7 linked regions of the Homo sapiens genome follow. The protein of the gene in region 1 purifies or fractionates together with the protein of each later gene. This does not show direct contact. Each region holds a gene or a part of one and is shown on either strand. Other genes may lie near its edges.

Region 1 (3,500 bases):
GGACAATACATCATATTAAATAACAGATCGGGGAGTTGACCCTAAAGTGGGCATAGGAAGAAGGTGTGCCTCACCTAGCTCTTTCTGGGCAAGACTTTATCATTATTTTTAGATGAACTTCCTTATTATGGGTGCTCAGTTTTTTTTCATCAGTTTTTTTCATAGACTATACCATCAAATACATAAGAGTAAATTAGCAATCAAATTGATCCATATTTAACGTCATTATTTCCCTAATGAATTGAGCTTATTTATTCAGCTTTATTTAGCCTTTTCCCCCGTTAAGTTTTCTCATTTAATCCTTGAAGGCCTTTAGAAATATAAAAAACAGAATGTAATTGTATAAAGACACAACTAATGGGGTATTGAGAATGTGCAGGGTCCTTTGGAATTGATTACATATTTGATTATTTTGAAATATTTTTCAACAATGGTCCATATATTTTTGTTTTCATTTTAGAACAAAATCCAGTCTCATAGCAGAGGAGAATATAATGTTTACAGCACCTTCCAGAGCCATGAACCAGAGTTTGACTACTTGAAAAGTTTAGAAATAGAAGAAAAGATCAACAAAATTAGGTGGTTACCCCAGAAAAATGCTGCTCAGTTTTTATTGTCTACCAATGGTAAGTATACATATTTTCTTTCCATGTGCCCACTGTGTGTACCTGTTGCACATATCCTGTAGCCTAGGAGAGGAATCATTTAACAGAGATACTTGTAAAAAGGACTTTTGTTTTTCTATACAGAATGTAAACTCTACTTTTTTACTGTCACTTGCAGTTTTTAGATTCTCTGAAAGATTCTCTGATAGCAATTTTTTGTTTACTACACCTCCAATTTGTAGTGAAAAGAATGGGCTGCTATACCATTGGATTTAGGTCAGGTAATATTTCTGTCATTTCTCAGTCTCGTAATCTTGGGCAGGTTACTAACACTGAATTGAATTTTCCTCAGCAGCAAACTAGAGATAGCAATTTTTTATTATAGTATTATTATGAATATTAAATAACTTCACATACATCATGAGTGCAAGTGCTCAATAAATGTTAATTTATTCCTCCTTTTTAAGTGTTTGTAAACTACACAGAGTATCTCAAACTGCAGATACAAAATACTCAAAGGATGGTCTCCATTCCAGGATACGCTATAGGAGAGCACTTTCTTACTTGATCACCATTAGCATATTGCCTTCTTCCCAGCAATCCACATGGCTGGAAGGAGATTCCTCTCCTACTGTTTACTTGCCAAGGGAACATTTTTTGTTGTTTTTTGAGACAATGTCTGTCGCCCAGGCTGAAGTGCATTGGTGTAATCACAGCTCACTGCAGCCTCGACCTCCCTACCTCAGTCTCCTGAGTAGCTGGGACCACAGGTGAGTGCCACCACACCCGGCTAATTTTTTAAAAACATTTTTGTAGAGACTGGGTCTCCCTATGTTGCTCAGGCTGGTCTTGAATTCCTGGGCTCAAGCAGTCTGCCCCGCTCAGTCTCCCAAAGTGCTGGGATTACACGTGTGAGCCACTATGCCTGGCCCAGGAAAAGTTGAGTGAGGATTAAAAGTTAGTAATGACAGGCCGGGCGTGGTGGCTCACGCCTGTAATCCCAGCACTTTAGGAGGCTGAGGCGGGTGGATCACGAGGTCAGGAGATTGAGACCATCCTGGCTAACATGGTGAAACCGTGTCTCTACTAAAAATACAAAAAAATTATCCGGGTGTGGTGGCGGGTGCCTGTAGTTCCAGCTACTGGGGCGGGGGTGCTGAGGCAGGAGAATGGGGTGAACCTGGGAGGCAGAGCTTGCAGTGAGCCGAGATCGCGCCATTGCACTCCAGCCTGGGCAACAGAGCGAGACTCGTCTCAAAAAAAAAAAAAAAAAGTTAGTAATGACTCTACCAGAATTTGAAATCCTTTATGATGAGTTGGGTGCTTTCTCTTTGTTCTTATGAAAAACTTTTTCCTGTGAATTGTTTGGACTTTGTTGGGGTCTTGAGTCTAAAGGGAATCATTAGAGTGACTGAGGAGATACTTTAGTTTCTGGGTAGCCGTAGTCTATAAAAATTTGTGATTAAAACTTTTTTGAGGTTGGTGCTAGGGTGAGGGGAACCTCTTATTTTCTCATCCCCTCACTATTAATTTAAAAAGCAAATTCTAACACCTAGACCATAAACATTTGCAGAATATATACTTAAATGACTTCAGGATGAAATGGGGGAAGAAATTCAGCACTTCCTCCATCTAATTGATGCCCCTCGTCCACAGTATTAGTTCTTAGAAATGCTGTTCACAAATGCCTGATGGCCATCAGCGTTGGCCGCCTCCTGGGTGCCCGTTTTTCTGATCATGAAAGCTTTCCCCAGCCAGTCCATTGAGATGCGTACCCTCTGCCTTCTCTGTTTTCACAATAGACTGCATTCCCCTCTCTTGTCCTTATTAGAAGAAAAATAAAGAGAAGTAACTATTTAAAGCCTGTAAATCACAGCACTATGGGTGGAGGGAACAGTTTATTCCTGTCATATGCTAGCTTCTAGTCTTGGGTCAGTTTTAATTTATATGGTAAACTAAGTTATTTCAAATAGCTTCAAATATTTTAGACACTGTTCTTTGGCATCAGATGATACATAATTAAACCATTTATATAATTTCTACTTTTAGAAGTAAATGTTCCTAGGGAAATGTGTTGTTAACATTTTATATATTGGAATATTTTTATGTCAGTTTATTTCTTATAGGGCTACATCAGCTTTCTTATAAAGAGAACTTTTTAAATGTAGGCTGAGTTCAAGAGAATAGTATAGTGAAGCCCTGCATGCTCATCATCCACTTCTGACACTCCTCAGTTCATGGCTAATTTGTGTCTCGGATCCTTCCCCTTCCCCTCCTCCTCAGTGTTATTTCGAAGCAAATCCGATTACAACGTCTATGGATTAAATCTTGTTTAAAGACATTAGAGAATGCATTGTAGATTTTTGTCTTTTGTTTCTTAATACTAAGTAAAATACAGCTAACTGGGGGCTGCATTTTTTAATGCTAAAATAAGTGCTTAATAATAGAGTCCAATGTGGAAGGATAAAGCAGATTATGAGAATCATATGAACTGTTGTGTCTGGGTAGATGGGAAAAGGATGGGAGGAGTAGGACTTGAACTATATCTGAAAAACTATTTGGAAAGAAGGAGACTTAGAGAAAAATGTCAACATCTGTTGATTCTGAGTGATATCTTTTATATTATTTTGTGTATTTTTCTCTGTGAGTTTTTTCTGTGAGCATAGTAACACCCCCCCCCCCCAATATAATGGGTCTATATAAAAACTATATCTGTGGGAGAATGATGGAAAATAGTACCAAACTTTCCAGGTTTGATTAACCAAAATTAATCTTATAAAAATATTTGCATTGGCTTTCCATGATCATTATATGAACTGGGTTTCCCAGATCATTTTTACTTAAAGGACGTCATAGTCACCTTATAACTTGAGTTAATTTAATGTTCCTTCAAGC
Region 2 (3,500 bases), on another chromosome or scaffold:
GTGGCTACCCTTCTGTGTTTTCACAACTTAGATTAGCTTTGCCTGTCCTGAAGGTTCAGATCAATAGAATCCTACGGTACATATTTTTGTGTGTGTCTTGCTGCTTTTATTCAGCATAATGTTTTGAAATTTATCCGTGTTGCATAAATCATTGAGGTATGTTGCTGAGTTGCATTCCTTTGTCAGAATACACCAGATCGTATACATTCAACTTGTTTTAAGTGTTTTTTTTGTGTGTGTGTGTTTTTTTTTTGAGACGGAGTCTCGCTCTGTTGTTCAGGCTGTAGTGCAGTGGTGCAATCTCTGCTCACTGCAACCTCCGCCTTCCAGGTTCAAGCAATTCTCCTGCCTCAGCCTCCCGAGTAGCTGGGACTACAGGCACGTGCCACCACACCTGACTAATCTTTTGTATTTTTAGTAGAGATGGGGTTTCATCGTGTTGGCCAGGATGGTCTCAATCTCCTGACCTGGTGATCCGCCTGCCTCAGCCTCCCAAAGTGCTGGGATTACAGGCATGAGCCACTGTGCCCGGGCTGTTTAAGTCCTAAAAGAATGCTTGTGGCTGGGTGTGATGGCTCACTCCTGTAATCCTAGCACTTTGGGAGGCCGAGGTGGGCAAATCACTTGATGTCAGGAGTTCGAGACCAGCCTGGCCAACATGGCGAAACCCCGGCTCTATTAAAAATACAAAAAACTAGCTGGGCGTGGTGGTGCACGCCTATAATCCCAGCTACTCGGGAAGTTGAGGGAAGATGAGGCAGGAGAATCGCTTGAACCTAGGAGGTGGAGGTTGCAGTGAGCCGAGATTGCACCACTGCACTCCAGCCTGGGCGACAGTGAGACTCCATCTAAAAAAAAAAAGAATGCTTACAACTGAGAGTGATGAAACTAGGCCAAGGACCGCCCCCCACCTCCCCAGGAGCCTCTCTGGAGGCTCACACCTGCTGGTCCTGTCCTTGAATAGACAGAAAAAAGGTTCCCCCTGTTCTCTGAATTTCTTTTCGGTGTGATAGATCTCATTGCCTGTGCATTTAACACTCCTAAATTTTATAAAACGATTATTTCTTTGGCATTTATCCAAGAGAAATGAAAAACCAATGTTCATGCAAAAACATGTTCTAGAATGTCCATAGCAGCTTTATGTGTAATAACTCCAAACTGGAAACAAGGAAAAAGTTCCCTTCAGCTGGGGTGTGGTGACACTCTGCTCCGTCTGTGCCTCCAGATCCTACTCTGTTGGGAACTGTTGACACACAAGAGTTTGCAAGGATCTCAAGAGAATTATGCTGAAGGAGAAAAGCCAACCTCAGAAGGGTGCTTGCTGTGGGATCCCATTTATGCCACATTGTTGGGCTGACCCAGAGCTGAAGGGTGGCATGGCCAGAAAAGGACCTACACAGGGAGGCCAGGGTGTCTGGTCCTGGCAGGAGAGCAGCCGTGGAACAGGGTAGGAACACAGACGTGGAGCTCAGTGGAGGAGGGAAGGAACGCTTAGCTGTGGGGCTTAGAGACTTGGCAAAACAAGAGGAAGCTTTACCAGCAAGTGTGCAGAAATAGTGCGGGAGAAAGTTGGTGGAGCGTTCCACCTTCTTAGGATGCAGTTTAATAATGTTTATCAAGCCTCTTAAAAATGTACCTGCACATCACCCTAGTAAGTAAAGAGCCGAGGCTAAGGAAGCCAAATGCTAGAAATACCAAAACACCTAAAGTTAGAAACTGGTATCATTTGTGATTGGGAAAATTGTCAGTAGTGTGAAACTTCCCTCCCTTGTGCAGAGAGGAAAGTGCTGGGAGAAACGACTGGAAAGGAGGAACCCAGGTGGTGACTGTGTTTTTCTGAGTGGATGGGATCCTGGGAGAAAATTCGTTTTATGGTTTTTGATGCTCTTCCAGATTGTCTATGGTGAGCTGTGGAAATAAGCAACCAGGTGAGAACAGGCAGAGGCTGTTTATCCAGAGCTTCCCCTAGCAAGGGTGCGGCCCTCCTCTCTCGTGATTGGCAGAAACTCATAGGCAGGTGAGGGAACAGGAGAGCTTTACAGTGGAATCCAGGGAAGCTCAGGGATGGCTGATGGAGGCTGCTGACTTGGGGGACTGGGGTGGCCAGTTAGAAGTGGGGCTCCTGGCCTGGCACGGTGGCTGACGCCTGTAGTCCCAGCACTTTGGGAGGCCAAGGTGAGTGGATCACCCGAGGTCAGGAGTTTTGAGACCAGCCTGACCAACATGGTAAGTCTCTACTGAAAATATAAAAATTAGCCAGGCCTGGTGGTACACCCTTGTAATCCCAGCTACTCGGGAGGCTGAGGCAGGAGAATCCCTTGAACCTGGGAGGCGGAGGTTGCGGTGAGCTGAGATTGCGCCACTGCACTCCAGCCTGGGCGACACAACAACAACAACAAAGAAGTGGGGCTCCTGTGAGATGGCCTAGAACATGTTTGGCTTTCTCTGGTTGGTCCTAAATTGGAAGCAGGGACAAAAACTGGAGAGGTTGTCGGTTACTAATCATGTCCTGGCCATTTTGGGCTGCTTGCTATGGAAATGATTGTTTAGCTTCCTGGATTGTTCCTAGAGAAAGCAGCCAGGCTTCCTGCAGGTCTGACTAGGGCAACCTGGCTTCCTGGCCCGTTACTGAAGGTAAAGGGCTGGTTTCCGACTGATGGCGGCAGATAATGGCTGAGAGTTCTGTTTCTGTATGTGGTTCCGCCATTGTTTGTTGGTATATTCCCTCGCTCAGAGCAGATGTTATTAGGGTGATTTCTGACGGTCACGTATTGCTAGTGCTGCCCTTAGGACCGCTGACAGCACCAGGCCAAGCACTGAATTCATCCTCTTAAGATCCCCAGTGGGAGGCTTCTAGTATCCATATCTGGCTTTCAGAAAAGGGCGGGAGGGTCTGTCGTTGGGTTTGGACTCAGGACCTGGCATTTCTAAGGACTCAGAGGAAAGGAAAGTGGGACCCAGAGGGTCCTAGGAGCTTGGGACAGCTTCTTGAACTGGTTCCCAGTGTGGTTGTGGGTCTTCTTGGCCTGTCCCATTGGTATTCTTGTTCCTTCTGTGAGTTGCCCTGATTGCCCTGCTCAGTCGTGCTGACCTCCTGTAGGCCCCACATTATGGGGGTTGTGCTGCTGGGTTTCCAGAGTCAGGGGAGGCAGCCAGGGGTTCTTCTGTCTATAAACTTGGGCTTAATGCATGCTGTTCAAGAGGATTTGGTTTGGGTCCTAAATTAATCCATTGCTATGCAGGCTTGGGATTGAGATAGGTTGAAAGAGAAACTAAAAACCTAAAAGGTATATTGACTTCCCACAGAGGAACCCGTGGGACTTAATCTTTTCCCCAACGCAGGGTGTCCTTTGTAGTTTGACATAGCCTTATGTTAATTCTCGATATACTTAGCAATTTTAAGCCAGTGATTTAAACAATGGATTGGGATGGAAAAGCTCTGAAAAGTTAAATTTGTGGCTGACACAAAGAACTCGAATATTTACCAAAAGTAATAGAAA
Region 3 (3,500 bases), on another chromosome or scaffold:
AGCGATCTGGAGCTCCTCCGCCTTCCGGATCTGCAGGTGTATTTTCTTTTAGGGACTTCGCTATCATTAGAAGTTAAAAAGAAATTTCTATTTTTATTCTGTTACCAGGGAATTAAACACCACTCAATCCATTTCAACAATAACATATTTAAGAAACATTATCAGCTTCCAAGAGACATTCTCACTGTTACTTCCATAGGGGAAGGAGAAAACTAGATATTGTGTCTTTGTGTTGTATGTTATAAAAGCTGGTGTGTATTGTTTAAAAATATTTTTTCTTATGAGTTGATGATTTTTGAAGTGTTTACCTCTAACTGTGATCACACATGCTCATTTATAGGACTGGTAGTCTGTAGAGGGACAAGATAACATTGCTATTAATAGTTTAGGTTTAAACACTGGAGTAGACAGACTTGGTTTGAATTTGGGCTTCATCCTAGACTGAGAAACCTTAGCTGAGTTATTTTACTTTATTTTCCCTCAACTGCGAATTATTGGGATTAAATGGTAAAGCAGTTAGTAGTGTGCCACACAATATTATATACCAAATAAATTGCGGGACCAGGCACAGTGGCTCATGCCTGTAACGCAACACTTTGGGAGGTTGAGGTGGGTGGATGATTTGGGCCCAGAAGTTTGAGACCAGCCTAGGCAACACAGTAAGACCCTGTCTCTACAAAAATTAAAAAAATTAGCCAGGCATAGTGATGCGTGCCTGTAGTCCATTTACTCAGGAGGCTGGGGCAGGATGATTGCTTGAGCCTAGGAAGTCAAGGCTGCCACGAGTTGTGATAGTACCACTGCACTCGAGCATAGGCAACAAAGTGAGACCCTGTCTAAGACATAAAATTAAATAAATAAATAAAGGCTGCTTTATGATTTTTTTTCTTTTGAGATACAGATTTTAGTTTTAGTAGTGTGTCATTTTTTAGGAACTTGCTTGATCCTCAAGTTGAGTTATTAGTTATACACTTCTTTAAAAAGGAAGACTAAAGAAGGGGGAAATGGGGAGTTGGTTGTTAAATGGATGTAGTTTCTGTTTTACAAGATGAAAACATTCTACAGATCCTGTTATACAACAGTGTGAATAGTGTTAAAACCACTGAATGTACACTTATCTAGAGTATAAATTTTTATTATGTGTTTTTTGTTAACCACAGTTATTATACTAATATTTTAAAAAGAGGAAGACTGAAGATCCTACCTTCCAGCTAAGCTACACTGTTATCCATGACATGCTGTAGAGCAAATTACTATAGCTCTTGATGTCACCTAGACTCCCCTTTTAAAACTGACAGATTCTGGGTAGCATTTGAGGTGAAGAGGTTGTTGCTTGTCCCATTCTATTTTAAGCAGTGCATGGGAATGGAAAATAGGTGATTTTTAGCAACTTTAGTTTACCTGGGGAGGAAGAATTTTATTTATCCCTTTTTTTTAAGTTTGGCAATTTCTATTCATTATTTTCTTTAAAAATGGTAATAATATAGCTTCTACTTAAGTCATTTAAAAACAATAGTTTTCTCTGCAATGTAGACTACATAAGAAAGACTTTTCATTCTGGTAGAGTGTTTTATCTGAGCCTTAGTTTATATTGCCTGATGAATGCCAGAATTCTTACTTGGTTTTCTTTTCTTTTCAGTCAGTACTGCTCCCCAGCCTAAACCAGTAAGTATAAGGTGTTTTTATATTTAATTTTGATCTATGGACTATGGGCATGGGTTCTTCTGTTGTGGATGGTAACAGTTTGTTTCAAGTTTGAGAACCAAAAGGAAAAAAAATTCCTGCGCTTCTATAATTTTCTCCAGTAAATTCCCATGCACCTTCATCACATTTGTACTGGTGAGGCCTCTAAAAAATTCGAGTTTGTCTGAATGTAAACCAACCCCACGGACTGCTCAGAAGACCACACTTTGTTATTTATTCTGTTTTTATTTGGGTTTATAAGAGTATCCCGCATCTTTTAATTTAATGAAAGACTTAAGTGCTATGTTAGGGAAAGATTTGTGAAATTTAATTAGGAAGTAATTAAAGTTAACAACTATCTCCAACTGGGGGTAATTAATTAGCCACCTGAAGGCTTTATCTGTTTGTAATCTCCGCCCAGGCTGACAAAATGTCAAAGAATAAGAAGAAGAAATTGAAGAAGAAGCAGAAGCGCCAGGCAGAATTACTAGAGAAGCGAATGCAGGAAATTGAGGAAATGGAGAAAGAGTCGGGCCCTGGGCAAAAAAGACCAAACAAGCAAGAAGAATCAGAGAGTCCTGTTGAAAGACCCTTGAAAGAGAACCCACCTAATAAAATGACCCAAGAAAAACTTGGTATAAATAGAACATCACGAAAATTACTGTACAACACACTTTAACGTTAATTTATCATTGCTATATAATACAGTGGTTTCATACATACAACACATCTCTGGGGGTATCTTTATAAGAATATGGATCTTGTCATAAATGTTAGGCAGGTAATATTTAAATGTAATTTGTAACTTTTCTCAGGAAATGGAACATAGATTTCATTTAACAATTGGGTAAAAGTAAGATCTTGGCCCTTCCGGAAATAGGTTTTAGATGTTTAGTCATGTTTTTATGTCACTCAGTATAAGTTCTAGAAAATGTTTTAATCTTGTGAGAAATGTTTCTGTTCTTTCACTCACACACATATGCATATATCTTTTTTTGTTCGTTTGTTCCTTAGAAGAGTCAAGTACCATTGGCCAGGATCAAACGCTTATGGAACGTGATACAGAGGGTGGTGCAGCAGAAATTAATTGCAATGGAGTGATTGAAGTCATTAATTATACTCAGAACAGTAATAATGAAACATTGAGACATAAAGAGGATCTACATAATGCTAATGACTGTGATGTCCAAAATTTGAATCAGGAATCTAGTTTCCTAAGCTCCCAAAATGGAGACAGCAGCACATCTCAAGAAACAGACTCTTGTACACCTATAACATCTGAGGTGTCAGACACCATGGTGTGCCAGTCTTCCTCAACTGTAGGTCAGTCATTCAGTGAACAACACATTAGCCAACTTCAAGAAAGCATTCGGGCAGAGATACCCTGTGAAGATGAACAAGAGCAAGAACATAACGGACCACTGGACAACAAAGGTACCTATGCAGCTATACTTCCTCAACACTCCTTCCCTGCACAACACATTCACAGATTTCTAGACTAAAAGTATGATTGTTTTTGTAACTATAGCTTTACAACAGGTGTGTCTAAGTTACGTTTAAATTGTAATCTGTAGCTAACTTTATCCATCATGTACTGAGTACACAGCACTTCATTTGTTGCTGTGAGGGCAGAGGTTTTTAATTCTGGAAACTCAAGGCGTTGCTGTGCTCTTTTTGTCTCAGAAAATGTAAGTTGTCACTTGGGTATTGCTGACTGTATTACTCTTACCTTGGAGAGCTTTATTACTCATTGAGTATTTCTCTGTTCATTGAACAGTCTTATTGATGATGCCTGTTGTCTGTAGGAAAATCCACGG
Region 4 (3,500 bases), on another chromosome or scaffold:
ACACAATGCAGCCACTAATAGTGCTGATGCATATGTATATGTGCTGATACAGACAGAAGACATTTACAAGGCAATGCACATGGTATGTGCCACAAATATACACATGTACATTTATATGCAAATGCAGGAAGAATATACAACAAAATGTGCACTGGAATTAACTCTGAGAGGTGGCATTATGGGTGATTTTCACTGTTGTACATCTAGTACTTTCTTTTTTATAGTGAACATATATCATTATGTATTTTGTAAATATTTTAATTAAAAGTAGAAAGTTAAAGAATACACTGTTTATCAGAGGAACTGTTCAGAAAGAATAAGACAGGTAGCCATTTAAAAAATTATGAGTAAACTGATCTCTAGGCAGCTTCTCCTTTCTCAGAATGAGACAAGCGTAGAGCGGGCTGCATCATGGTGCTGAGAGTCCTGTCTTTGAGGATGTGCTAGCCTGGACATTAGGGAAGCAGACCCATGCCCGAACCCTGAGGCTGCACAGCCTGGGTGGCCACCAGGAAGCCCAAACATCTAGAGTTGAGCCACGGAATGCCCTCGGCCCAGCCCTTTTTATTATTGGCCATTTCCTTGGTCTCAGCAACCATGGCCCTGCACAGAATCTCCCCGCCACAGCAACAGCTGTGGAGTTCTGAACATAAGTTCTCAAGACCAGTCAACCTGGGTTCAACCACCTGCTAAGACAGTCTCTCCATCCCTCTGAGCTGCAATTCCCTCATCTGCAACATCAGGATAAGGCCTCATAGCATCATTGTGAATGTTAAGGTGCAACATATGCCGAGAGCCTAGTGGAGTGCTCAACATAGAACAGGTGATCAAGCACGTTCTTCATCTGTGTCTGCCCTCTCTACTCCAAGATCATTCCCCTAACCCCAAAGGCACCTATGCAGCTTTCCCTTTGAATTAAACATAAAAAAGAGATCTCAACCAGCCTCTTCTGAAAGGATGGCCTTTTAAAAAGGCATAGCTTAGAGAGACTTGGCCACAGGCTTTGCTGCTTCTCCCCGGCATTGCAGACACTGCCACCGTGGGCCAGCGTCTCCGCATGGTCCATCTCCAGACACACCCAGCGGGCAGGAGTAGAATACCTGCGGCGCACTTTCCTGGATTTTGAGGCAGCCCAGACCACTCCAAGAAGAGGAAACAACCCTGACGTGGAAGAAGGCATTCCCATAGCTGCAGGCAGCAAACCACACCTCCAGATCTGATAAGACCTCTCTCCAGCACCACCCAGCCCTCCCCAGGCTCACAGCCACTGCGGGTCTCCCTCCAGGCTGCCTCTAAGAAACATTTGGGAGGTAGGTTTCACCAGGGAAAAAGTTACCCGGGTGAAAGTGGACACAAAAAAGGGCCAGAGCCCCAGCTCTGTATCTCTTCAGAGACGGCTGGAGCCACTTGGCCAGAGGGTTACAACTGTGGCCACAGAGCAGAAGCAGAGAAACGCCACACTTTGAGACAGTGGCTGGGTGGGAAAGCAAAACCAGGTTTCAGTCTCAGTTCTGCCAGGGACCTGTGACTTGGGAGAAGTCCCCAAGACTCTGGGAATATTTCCCAGAAAACCAGGAGGTGGCTCACACTTGTAATCCCAGCACTTTGGGAGGCCAAGGTGGGTAGATCACTTGAGGCCAGGAGTTCGAGACCAGCCTGGCCAACACGGCAAAACCCTATCTCTACTAAAAACACGAAAATTAGCTGGACATAGTGGGGCATGCCTGTAATCCCAGCTACTCAGAAGCTAAGGCAGGAGAATTGCTTGAACCTGGGAGGCTGAGATTGCAGTGATCCGAGATCATGCCACTGTACTCCAGCCTGGGCGACAGAGTGGGACTCTGACTAAAAGAAAAACAAAAACAAAAACAAAAAACAAAACAAAACAAAAAAACCAGGAGGTTGGATGGGCCAAGGGTTCAGTGGGGTTCCCAATGCAGGGTCCTGCAAGCTGTGCTACTAAAGTCATTACTGTGCCCTGCCTGGCTCCTTCACTAGACTAGAACTGTCCCTAGACCCCAAAGACTGGGAGAACAGCCCACCTACTTCAGAGCCCTTGCTAGGTGGCTGCCAGCCAGGTAAGCACATCAACAGTAACTAAAGGTCTGTCCAGGGAACGTGCCTCAACACACCCTAAGGACCCAATCTGCAGGAATGCCACCCCTCCCCTCTCCCAGCAGTTCCATCATCAGATGCTCCTGGGAGGCATAGGGAGAGCTCAGGTCCCCCACACGGTGGGACTCTGACCTCTGCCACGGCAGAGCTGTGTGAGGGCCAGGCCTCTCTGACCTTCCAGATGGCAGGAGGGCCTCCCCTCTGACCCCCTGCGGCTCCAGGGCAACTGCTCAGGAAAGCAGCCCAAGGGCAGAGACTGTACCTACCACAGTTCCCAACATCGCCTCCCAGCACAGCCTGACTCTGCACCTACCACAGTTGCCAACATCACCTCCCCCAGCAAAGCCTGATGGTCAAAGTCCTTCAGCCCCTTTCTCCACGCCAGCTTGCTTAGGAGGGATTTTTCTCCACAAGAACACAAGGTGGGGAGACTCAGCATGGCAGAGCCTGTCTCTGGAAAGTACTAGTAGGCTGGCAGGAAAGGGCAAGTCACAATGTCCCTGGAACATAAATCTCCATGAGGCAACATGTGTCTGCTTCTACACACCCTTGTCTCCCCAGCGCTGGGCAGATTCAAAGGAATGAAGGTAATTATTACTGGCATAGGTTGCAGGCCCAGCTATTAGGCAGGCCAAGTGTCCCTCTGTGAGTACACTGGGGCATAAGAACATTCCCGTTTGCCTCGGTGGAGTTTTCAGACCCCTAGGAGGGTCTAGCGGAGACAGAACACCAGCTCCTGCCAGGATGAAGTAGCCTCACAACTTCTGTTTACAGATTAATACCCTGGTTTCAAATTGTGCCTCCCTCCCTTTATATTTAGAGAGGGAAAATGTGTATGATGAAAACTGCTGATCTCCAGGAACGTGTGTGAGTTTGAGAAGAGTCAGGCACGCTGCTAGGCACACAGGCAGCAAACGTTAAGTCTCAGCTCCTTCTACCCTTTTCCATCCAAACTGGACCACCACACAGAGAAAAGCTATCCCCGGACAACCAGACACGCTGACCCACTACACCCCATCACAACCCAATTTCAGGCAGCAGCAGCCCATCCCTGGTCAGGGACCTCCACGGACATTTCACGTGCTGCTTCTCCCACTGAGTGTTTATTTAATGAAGGCCAGAGTGAGCTGGGGCTCCTCAGATTCTAGATAAGTCCGATGCAGTTGCACAGGCCAAGCCCTCCAGGTCAGATCCTTCTTCAAAAGCCAGGAATCCAGTGTTGCAAGCACAGTCTCTGGGGCCACGGCCTGGTGTGTGGGGAGCCCACAGAACAGGAAAGAACGCTGGAGTGGACACTGCCACTTGCCTGCCTGGCCCCAACACATGCTGCTGGCGGTGGACGGTCCCACCCAGCTTGCTGAGATTGTTTCCTGGCTTGTGTCACC
Region 5 (3,500 bases), on another chromosome or scaffold:
GACTTGTTTCTTTCTTCCCTGTCACCCTTTTGACTAAATTCATTTCGATGAAGATGAAATGTAGGTGCTTTATGAAGGTATATGCTATATGCCTTTTTTTTTTTTTTTTTTGGTCTTTTGATCTTTCATTAAAACTGCTAAGATTTCTTCTCCCCAGAGCTTTCTTGCTAATGTGCCTATATCCTCTTACTTTAGCTATATTCCTTATACAAAGGAGCATCAGTGTGTATATATCATTTATTTCTATTTTTAGTGGGAAGATCCTGGCTGTAAGGATGAATAATGTTAAGTTTAAACCTGAAAAATCTCAGTAGTTCAAAGATACCAAAATCACTACTATGTGAAATGTGTGTTTTGAAAGCAGTTTGCCAGCCGTGTGAGACCTGCGGTGTGGCCTGCAGTGCCTGAGTATGATGCCCCACTTGTCTTTTTGTATTTTTTCTAGTGCTACTGTCTAAGAGCTGGAGCTACAGAGCTTGAAATTACCACTGAAAACACTGAAATGTTGGGCCCTTCACTGCTTCCTCATAAGGATACCAGAGGCAACCTGGCATATTAAGCTTGACACTTGGCAGATCACTGTGTAAATTGTTTTTCAGGAATACAAGTTGGGACACTTCTGTTCATTTGACCTTTGAGTTGACCCTTAAATTTTATTATTGTTTTTTTTCCCCTCAGTCTTCAGCTCACTGCTTCACTTCTAGTTCCACCCACTTACCAAATATGATTGACTCATGCAGGTGAATTAAACCATTATTGCACACTTTTTCCCTCTCCTCTCTCTCAGTATTACTCTTAACTTGAATATTTTAACCTGAACAATTTAAATAGGCTTGACATTCCCATGCTGCTTTCAAGCCTTTTTTTTTTTTTTTTTGAGACAGAGTTTCACTCTTGTTCCCTGGCTGGAGTGCAATGGCACAGTCTCGGCTCACTGCAACCTCCACCTCCCGGGTTCAAGTGATCCTCTTGCCTCAGCCTCCCAAGTAGCTGGGATTACAGGCTCCTGCCACCATGCCCAGCTAATTTTTTTTTTTTTTTTTTTTTTTTGTATTTTTAGTAGAGACGGAGTTTTACCTTGTTGGCCAGGCTAGTCTCGAACTCGTGACCTCAGGTGATCCGTCTGCCTCAGCATCCCAAAGTGCTGGGATTACAGGCGTTAGCCACCATGCAGCCCCTTTCAAGCCTTTTAACATCATGTCACCTTCACAATGAGCAGTTGCTCCCATTACCCAGTGAACTCACCTTCTGATGGGACAGTTACCCTAGTTGGGGCTTCTCAGCCTTGAGAGATGTGCAGAGCAGGGACCTGTCCAGGGCAGAGCAGCCAGACAGCGTGGAAATAATCCAAACAGAGAAAGCATTCAAGAACTTGGCCTCTGGTTGACTTAACACACTACTTCAAGTATATGGCAGGTCTGTATAATAAACTCCTGCCTGTCTAGTCTTCAGCCTCATAGAAAGCAAGAAAGCAGGTGGCGTATGTTGCAGAACAATTCTTGGGTAGAACAAGGGGACATTTGATGGTTTGGGTTTTTCAGTAAGAAAGATGAAGTCCTGGAGTATAGGGTAGAGTGGTACAGTGGAAAATATTTCAGCTTGGGGGTTAGAAAATAAACATGCCGATTCTTGCTTTGCCATAAATGATGTCACCTAACTTGTGTGACCCTGTTTTCTCATCCCTAAAATGATTTGATAAGTTTAAGATTAGGCTATTTTTAAATGTATGGAAGAAATTGGGTGTTACCCTTCTTGAAAGACATTTTCCCTGCAAGTATGGCAGGCTGTATCTTTCAGTGTAACAAAGTTCTATTAAAGGTCATAACTGCTGCCCTGTAACTTTTGCCTTATTCTAGAAACTTCTACTCCTTGAATGACATGTGTTGGTACATGTTTCTTCTCTTTCAGATAGAATGGTTAATTTTGACTTGTTGCTTCTGCACACGTGTCCTGGAAATAAAAGTTTCTTCCCACTACTTATTGCTGATTTATTTCATAGGAAGTCTTAAGGAAAGAGGCAAAAAACGGGCTCATGGGTCACTTGAAGTTGGAAAATTCTGTGGAGATTGACAAAGGAGACTCACTTTTGAGCATCTGTTCTCAGTGTAACCTTCAAATCTGTGGAAACATAACTAGGCACATTTTATGATTATTTAGAATGTTAATAAATTGCTCTGAGTTTCCTCAAGTCCATTTTGTAAGATCAGACCATAGGTGGGTGTTGTTTCTTTTAAGTGTGTGTACTGTGTCCAATGTTACATTTTTAGAAGTGTTCATGCTTTTTGTAAAGTGATTCGTTTTAAGCACATTAAAGGTCGTTTGAGTATTGTCATGTATTTTACACCTGCTTCAGCTTAGTTTTGTTTGAAAGTCTCTACAGCAACTCTTACATAATATCTGTTGCTGAAGAGAAAGAACAATCCTCTCTCCAACTCGTTAGCTAGCTTTGCCACCTTCTACCTTTAGTAAATTTTTTCCTGTTATAATCTGTCCCTTTACATTCCAGTGCCACCACTCCCTGATGGTCTAGACCTAGGGAGACTGACAGTCGCCTCAGGTCGCATAGGTGCTAGGCGGAAGGGTAATTTTTTTAGAAATTAAAATTGAAATTTTAAAAATATTTAATAATACACCCATTAAATGTTAACAACATTGTTATGAAAAATATCTTTGCAAGAAATACTCCTTTTCACAGTCTCTGTAGCAAGAGTTTTTACCTGAGTAAGGAGGAGGACAAGGACAGTCATTTTGTTCGGCACAACTCCTCCAAGGAGAGCCCCTGACACCCCTGTAGGCTCACTTCTGAGCTTGGGGCTTTCGCTAGAACCTCCCTATGCCTTAGCTTCCATCAGTCTCTTCCCACCTTTTTTTCCATACAACCCTAAGCTGAACTTGAGTGAAAGAGAAGACCAAGAGAAGTAATACTTTAAAAATCTTTTTGAAATTCATATGTAATGATTATGGAGTAAATGGAATCATTTGCTTTTAATTGCCACGTCTTGGCTCCCTCTTCCCAGCGCCTCCCCATGGTCTTTCCTTAGAGCCCAGGGGCATCAGAAAGAGGTTCTGCGGGGAGGATCCATCCCTGGCAGCCGCAGCCTCAGCTCCCGAGCTTTGGGGTTGTTAGGAGGCAGATGTCCTGAGCTTGCTGCCCTTGAGGCTTGAGGGAGTGGTGGGTTCTTCCTTAGGCAGCTCCCTTCTCTAGCCCCCATTCCTGTCCTACATCACAAGCTGCAAGGTCGGTAGACCCCAGGTACCTCCTTTGTGACCTCCACTGCTCTAGACCAAGGGTTCCCATCTGAACACTTGACTGTGGGGCAAGATATTTTGTTGTGGGGCTGCCCAGTGGTCCTCTACTTTGTAGGACATTCACCAGCATCCCTGGCCTTACCCCTGGATGCCAGTGGCCCACTGCCCCCACCAACTGTGACAACCAAAATGCATCCAGACATTGTCTGGACATTGTCTAATGTCTCCTGGAGGATCAAATCGCCCCCTGT
Region 6 (3,500 bases), on another chromosome or scaffold:
AGCAACAAAGACAAAAAAAACCTTTAACCATGACCACCCCCATATCCCACACATAAAAGAAACTGTATCCAGTTAAAATGGTGAGAATTGGTTTTTTCCCCCTTGATACTGCCCCATCTCTTTGCCTGGGTATAATCATGAAGTGTACATTCCTGGTATTACATGTTATCGTGATTTGGTCACACCATGAGTGAGTTATGACTAAAATTTTGTGTTTTGGGGGCATTTGAACATTTATTCTATAAGAATACTATCAGTTTTTGGCTGGGTATGATAGCTCGTGCCTGTAATCCCAGAACTTTGGGAAGCTAAGGTGGAAGGATCATTTGAGGCCAAGAGTTCGAGACCAACCTGGCCAACAAAACAAGACCCTATCTGTACAAAAAATTAAAAAAATAAATAGTGGGCATAGTAGCACACAGCACACGCCTGGCACTAGTGACTCCAGAGGCTGAGAAGAGATGATCACTGGAGCCCAGGAGTTTGAGGATGCAATGAGCTATTATCCTACTACAGCACTCCAGCCTGGGTGACAGAAACCTAATTGCTAAACACACACACACACACACACACACACACACACACACACACACACACACACACACACACACCCCTATGTGTTTTTGTTGTGTATGTTGGCTGTGTACTGGTAGTTTTGAAGAAAGATATATTCACTTTAATATCTTAACTACTCTAAAGTTTTGACATGATTGCTTAAAGACTTGTAATGTTTTAGAGTCTATTTTCTTTTTCTTTTTTTTTGAGATGGAGTCTCACTCTTGTCATCCAGCCTGGAGTGCAATGGCGCGATCTTGGCTCACTGCAACCTCCACCTCCTGGGTTCAAGCGATTCTCTTTCCTCAGCCTCCTGAGTAGCTAGGATTACAAGTGCCCGCCACCAGGCCTGGCTAATTTTTGTATTTTTAGTAGAGGCGGGGTTTCTCCATGTTGGCCAGGCTGGTCTCGAACTCCCAATCTCAGGTGATCCGCCTGCCTTGGCCCCAAAGTGCTGGGATTACAGGCGTGAGCCACGCGCCTGGCCTGGAGTCTATTTTAAATTAATTAGTATCCTTTCGTGTAAACTGAGAGTTCATAATCAGATTAGATTGATTTTAAAGCTATATATTATAATGTCAGTAACTGAAATTCTGCTGCCAAGTTTTTTGTTGTTTTTTGTTTATACAATTCAGTGACTTTGAGTATATTTACAGAGTTGTGCAGCCATCACCAAAATTAGGTTTTAGAAATTTTTACCACTCGGCCGGGCGCAGTGGCTCAGGCCTGTAATCTCAGTACTTTGGGAGGCCAAGGCAGATGGATCACTTGAAGTTGGGAGTTCAAGACTAGCCTGGCCAACATGGTAAAATCCTGTCTCTACTAATAATACAAAAATACCCAGGCGTGGTGGTGCATGCCTGTAATCCCAGCTACTTGGGAGACTGAGGCAGGAGAATCACTTGAACTTGGGAGGTGGAGTTTCCCATGAGCCGAGATTGCACCACTGCATTCCAGCCTGGGCAACAGAGTGAGACCTTGCATTTTTTTTTGAGACGGAGTCTCGCTCTGTTGCCCAGGCTGGAGTACAGTGGCGCGATCTCGGCTCACTGCAAGCTCCGCCTCCCAGGTTCACGCCATTCTCCTGCCTCAGCCTCCCGAGTAGCTGGGACTACAGGTGCCCGCCACCACGCCCGGCTAATGTTTTGTATTTTTAGTAGAGACGGGGTTTCACCGTGTTAGCCAGGATGGTCTCGATCTCCTGACCTTGCAATCCGCCCGCCTCAGCCTCCTAAAGTGCTGGGATTACAGGCGTGAGCCACCGCGCCTGGCCGAGACTCCATCTTAAAAAAAAAAAAAGGAAATTTTTATCACCCTATAAAGAAATTTTGGGGCTGGGCATGGTGGCTTACGCCTGTAATCCCAGTACTTTGGGAGGCCAAGGCAGATGGAGCGCATGAGCCTAGGAGTTTGAAATCAGCCTGGGCAGCATAACAGCACCCTGTCTCTGAAAAAAAAAAAAAAAAAAAAAGAAAAAAAAAGAAACAGAGTTTTGGCCAATTTAGTTACTTCTGATTCTCACCCTCAGCCCCAGGCAACTAACCTATTTCTCATCTCTATAGATTTGGCTTTTCTAGGCCCAGTGTGGCTCATACCTGTGATCCCAACACTTTGGGAGGCCGAGGCAGGAGGATCACTTGAGACTAGCCTGGGCAACATAGTGAGACCCGTGTCTCTACGAAAAATAGAAAAAAATTATCCGTCTTGGTGGTGTGCGGCTGTAGTCTCAGCTGCTTGGAAGGCTGAGGTTGGAGGATCGCTTGAGTCTCCAAGGTTGAGTTTGCCGTGATCCTGCCACTGCACTTCAACCTGCGCAACAGAATGAGAACCTGTCTCTAAAAAAAAAAAAAAAAAAAGCTTTTTCTGGACATTCCATATAAATGGAATCATATAGTGTATGACCTTTTATATTTGGTGGCTTTCACTTTTTTTTTTTTTTTTTTTTTTGAGATGGAGTCTCACTCTATCACCTAGGCTGGAGTGCAGTGGTGTGATCTCTGCTCACTGCAACCTCTGCCTCCTGGGTTCAAGTAATTTTCCTGCCTCACCCTCCTGAGTAGCTGGGACCACAGGTGTGCGCCACCACACCTGGCTAATTTTTGTATTTTTAGTAGAGATGGGGTTTTGCCATGTTAGCCAGGCTGGTCTCAAACTCCTGACCTCAAGTGATCCGCCTGCCTTGGCCTCTCAAAGTGCTGGGATTACAGGCGTGAGCCACAGCATAAAGTTTTTGAAGATCATTTATGTTGTAACATGTATCAGTACTTCATTTCTTTTTAGGGCCAAATAGTTATTCTGTTTTATGGCTACAGTGCATTTTGTTTATCCATTTACCGGTTGATGTTCATTTGAGTTATTCATTCAGATGTTCAACTGAATTGTGAATAAAGCATTTTTTGTTTCTTTTTTTTTTTTTTTTGGAGATAGGGTCTCACTCCGTTGCCCATGCTGTAGTGCAGTGGCGTGAAAAAGCTCGCTGCAGCTTCACCCTCCTGGGCTGAAGTAATTCTTCTGCCTCAGTCTCTCATGTAGCTGGGACCACAGGCACGTGCCACCATTCCCAGCTAATTTTTTGATTTGTTGCAGAGATGGGGGTCTCGTGATTTTGTCCCGGTTGGTTTTAAACTCCTGGCCTCAAGCAATTCTTCTGCCTCTGCCTCCCAAAGTGTTAGGATTATAGGCATGAGCCACCTCCTCGCCTGGCCTGAATAAACCTTTTAGAAGGCTGGGTGTGGGGGCTCATGCCTATAATCCTAGCACTGTGGGAGGCTGAGGCAGGTGGATCGCTGGAGTCCAGGAATTCCAGACCGGCCTGGGCAACGTGATGAAACCTGTTCTCTACAAAAAATGAGCCGATGCTGGGCATGGTGGCCTGTATTCCCAGCACTTTGGGAGGCCGAGCTGGGTGGATCATGAAGTCAAGAGTTTAAGACCAGTCTGGCCAA
Region 7 (3,500 bases), on another chromosome or scaffold:
AAATTAGCCAGGCATGGTGGCATGTGCCTGTAATCCCAGCTACTCGGGAGGCTGAGGCAGGATAATTGCTTGAACCCAGGATACGGAGGTTGCAGTGAGCCAAGATTGCACCACTGCACTCCAGCCTGGGCGACAGAGCAAGACTCCGCCTGGGAAAAAAAAAAATGCAGATTCCAGTTCAGTAGGTCTGGGATAGGGCCGAGATTTTGCTTTTTTTTTGAGATGGAGTTTCGCTCTTGTTGCCCAGGCTGGAGTGCAATGGTGTGCTCTTGGCTCACTACAAGCTCTGCCTCCCAGGTTCAAGCAATTCTCCTGCCTCAGCCTCCCAAGTAGCTGGAATTACAAGCATACACCACACCCGGCTAATTTTGTATTTTTTTTTTTTTTTTTTTGTTAGTAGAGACAGGGTTTCTCCATGTTGGTCAGGCTGGTCTCGAACTCCCGACCTCAGGTGATCAGCTGGCCTGGACCTCCCAACGTGCTGGGATTACACACGTGAGTCACCATGCCCGGCCAAATTTTGCTATTCTAATAAACTTCCAAATGTTGCTGACACTGCCAGTCCCTAGAACACACTTTAAGTAGCTGTAGTTTTTTTGTTTTTGTTTTTGTTTTTTTGTTTTGAGTCAGGGTCTTGCTGTGTTGCTCAGGCTGGAGTGTGTGGCATGAACTTGGTTTACTGTAGCTTGGACCTCCCAGGCTCATGTGATCCTCCCACCTCAGCCTCCCAAGGAATGAGAACACAGACAGGTGTATACTACCATGCCTGGTTAATTTTTAAATTTTTTTATAGAGACAGTGTCTGGCTATGTTGTCAGGGCTGGTATTGGACTCCTGGGCTCAACCAGTCCTCCCACCATGGCCTCCCAAAGTGCTAGGATTACAGGCATGAGCCACCGAGCCTGGCCCTGAAAATTTAAATTAAGGTCTTAATCCTAGGTGCATATGAAAGTCATTGCAGTGCTTTTTATGTTTATTTTTATTTATTTATTTTTTTTGAGATGAAGTTGCACTCTGTTGCCCAGGCTGGAGTGCAGTGGTGCAATCTCGGCTCACTGCAACCTCTGTCTCCCAGGTCCAAGTGATTCTCCTGCCTCAGCCTCCCTAGTAGCTGGGATTATAGGCGCCCGCCACCCTGTCCCGCTAATTTTTGTATTTTTAGTAGAGACGGGGTTTCACCATCTTGGCCAAGCTGGTCTTGAACTCCTGACCTTGTGATCCACCCGCCTTGGCTTCCCAAATTGCTGGGATTACAGGCATGAGCCACTGCGCCTGGCCAGAGTGCTTTTTATTTTTTATTTTTTTATTTTTGAGATAGGGTCTCACTCTGTCACCCAAGCCAGAGTGTGGTAGCACAATCATAGCTCATATAACCTTGAACTGCTGGGCTCAAGTGATCGTCCCACCTCAGCCTCCTGAGTAGCTGGGACTACAAATGAGTGCCACCACACCCAGCTGGTATTTTTTTTCTTTCTTTTTTTTTTTTCTTTTTGCTGTTCTTGATCTCCCGGGCTCAAGTGATCCTCCCACTCTGACTTCCCAAAGTGGATAAGAAGCATGAGCCGCTGTGCCCAGCCTTCAGTGGGGTGCTCTATTTATTTATTTATTTTTGAGACGGAGCCTTGCTGTGTCATCCAGACTGGAGTGCAGTGTGGCGCAATCTCGGCTGACTGTAAACTCCACCTCCTGGGTTCAAGCGATTCTCCTGCCTCAGCCTCCCGAGTAACTGGGACTACAGGCGCCTGCCACCACGCCCAGCTAATTTTTATACTTTTAGTAGAGATGGGGTTTCACAATGTTGGCCAGGATAGTCTCGATCTCTTGACCTCGTGATCTGCCCACCTCGGCCTCCCAAAGTGCTGGGATTACAGGCGTGAGCCACCCTGCCAGGCTACTTTTGACACCCCCAAAATCCAGCCAGGTGCAGTGGCTCACCTCTGTAATTCCAGCACTTTGGGAGGCCGAGGTGGGAGGATTGCTTGAGCCCAGGAGTTTGAGATCAGCCTGGAAAATAGAGGGAAACCCAGCCTCTATAAAAATTGTAAAAATTAGTTGAGTGTGGTGGCGCACACCTGTAATCCCAGCTACTCAGGAGGCAGTGGTGGGAGGATTGCTTGAGTTGGGAGGTCAAGTCTGCAGTGAGCCATGATCATACCACTGTACTCCAGCCTGGGCAACAGAGTGAGATCCTGTCTCAAAACAAAAAATCTTAACTACTAATAGCCCACTGTTGTCCAGAGGTCTCAGTGATTACATAACAGTCAATTAACTTATTTTTTTATGTGAGCCAAAGATTTATGTCTTCATTTCTTGCATTTGAAGTACTCTTGGATGACATCCTTGGCCTGAGACTCCTTGCCATAGTCCTTAACTACTACACAACTGCAACCAACCACTTTACAGGGTTTCCCTTCTCTCAATTTTACAGAGCGCTACCCATTCCCCTAGTTTCTTGTTGTCATCAACCTTAATTAAGTTGATTTGGTGCTCAGCACAAAGGGACTCCACCAGCTTGACATACATAGGCTTATCACAGTTGGATCAAGCACACAAAGATGGGCTTGGCGCTTGTCTAAGGCTTTGGCAGCTTCACAGATTCCACGTGCTAGGCCATCGTGGATGAGGGCGGTCTTCAGCACCTCTTGTAAAGCAGTATTAACATCCATTACACCTCCAGCAGCAATGCCTCCCTCGGCCATGGCAGTGGGTTATGGGTGAAGCTGAATCTTGAACATACCCAAGCCTCCGCCTCCGCGCAACTCGGCAGTGGCAGGGAAAGGGTGATTAACATATTTTTTAATGTTATATATATATATAATACTATAATCTTACAATAAGCTGAAGAAAAGAAAATGTTATTAAGAAAATCAGGAAAACACATTGAATTTACTATTCATTAGGTGGAAGTGGATCATCATAAAGGTCTTCATTCTCATCGTCTTCACATTGAGTAAGCTGAGGAGGAGGAGGAAGAGGAGGGGTTGGTCCTGCTGTCTTAGGGGTGGCAGAGGCAGAAGAGGTGGTGGAGGAGGTAGATGGAGAGGCAGGCACATTCAGCTGTAACTTTTTTTTCTTTCACTCTGTCACCCAGGCTGGAGTGCAGTGGTGGGATCTCAGCTCACTGCAAGCTCCGCCTCCCGGGTTCACACCATTCTCCTGCCTCAGCCTCCTGAGTAGCTGGGACTACAGGTGCCTGCCACCACGCCTGGCTATTTTTTTTGTATTTTTAGTAGAGATGGGGTTTCACCGTGTTAACCAGGATGGTCTCGATCTCCTGACCTCGTGATCCACCCGCCTCACCCTCCCAAAGTGCTGGGATTACAGGCGTGAGCCACCGTGCCCGACCTTTTTTCTTTTTACTAGCCCCTCAGTGTTTAAAGTTGTAACTTTTATTTAATTAAATTTAATTAATTAATTTTTTTGAGACAGAGTCTCACTCGGTCACCCAGGCTGGAGTGCAGTGGCGCGATCTCAGCTTACTGTAACATTGCCTCCCAGGT

The links.
Region 2: the proteins of PPP2R2A (region 1) and CDCA4 purify together in Homo sapiens (affinity purification with mass spectrometry; 4 studies listed by BioGRID and IntAct, with this or other methods). This does not show direct contact.
Region 3: the proteins of PPP2R2A (region 1) and SRPK1 fractionate together in Homo sapiens (co-fractionation; one large-scale study listed by BioGRID). This does not show direct contact.
Region 4: the proteins of PPP2R2A (region 1) and KSR1 purify together in Homo sapiens (co-immunoprecipitation; 2 studies listed by IntAct). This does not show direct contact.
Region 5: the proteins of PPP2R2A (region 1) and PPP2R5C fractionate together in Homo sapiens (co-fractionation; 2 studies listed by BioGRID). This does not show direct contact.
Region 6: the proteins of PPP2R2A (region 1) and RPS6KB1 purify together in Homo sapiens (affinity purification with western blotting; 2 studies listed by BioGRID). This does not show direct contact.
Region 7: the proteins of PPP2R2A (region 1) and ECSIT purify together in Homo sapiens (affinity purification with mass spectrometry; 2 studies listed by BioGRID and IntAct, with this or other methods). This does not show direct contact.

Annotation. Positions count from the first base shown.
Region 1 is NC_000008.11:26,354,008-26,357,507, forward strand, and holds part of PPP2R2A (serine/threonine-protein phosphatase 2A 55 kDa regulatory subunit B alpha isoform), read left to right. Parts: intron 1-460; coding exon 461-626; intron 627-3,500. UniProt on the Homo sapiens protein: Substrate-recognition subunit of protein phosphatase 2A (PP2A) that plays a key role in cell cycle by controlling mitosis entry and exit. Involved in chromosome clustering during late mitosis by mediating dephosphorylation of MKI67.
Region 2 is NC_000014.9:105,014,584-105,018,083, reverse strand, and holds part of CDCA4 (cell division cycle-associated protein 4), read left to right. Parts: intron 1-3,500. UniProt on the Homo sapiens protein: May participate in the regulation of cell proliferation through the E2F/RB pathway. May be involved in molecular regulation of hematopoietic stem cells and progenitor cell lineage commitment and differentiation.
Region 3 is NC_000006.12:35,869,099-35,872,598, reverse strand, and holds part of SRPK1 (SRSF protein kinase 1), read left to right. Parts: coding exon 1-36; intron 37-1,639; coding exon 1,640-1,665; intron 1,666-2,104; coding exon 2,105-2,318; intron 2,319-2,697; coding exon 2,698-3,117; intron 3,118-3,488; coding exon 3,489-3,500. UniProt on the Homo sapiens protein: Serine/arginine-rich protein-specific kinase which specifically phosphorylates its substrates at serine residues located in regions rich in arginine/serine dipeptides, known as RS domains and is involved in the phosphorylation of SR splicing factors and the regulation of splicing.
Region 4 is NC_000017.11:27,459,448-27,462,947, reverse strand, and holds part of KSR1 (kinase suppressor of Ras 1), read right to left. Parts: intron 1-3,500.
Region 5 is NC_000014.9:101,764,709-101,768,208, forward strand, and holds part of PPP2R5C (serine/threonine-protein phosphatase 2A 56 kDa regulatory subunit gamma isoform), read left to right. Parts: intron 1-445; exon of another isoform or gene 446-2,341; intron 2,342-3,500.
Region 6 is NC_000017.11:59,899,621-59,903,120, forward strand, and holds part of RPS6KB1 (ribosomal protein S6 kinase beta-1), read left to right. Parts: intron 1-3,500. UniProt on the Homo sapiens protein: Serine/threonine-protein kinase that acts downstream of mTOR signaling in response to growth factors and nutrients to promote cell proliferation, cell growth and cell cycle progression.
Region 7 is NC_000019.10:11,522,635-11,526,134, reverse strand, and holds part of ECSIT (evolutionarily conserved signaling intermediate in Toll pathway, mitochondrial isoform 1 precursor), read left to right. Parts: intron 1-2,281; exon of another isoform or gene 2,282-2,779; intron 2,780-3,500.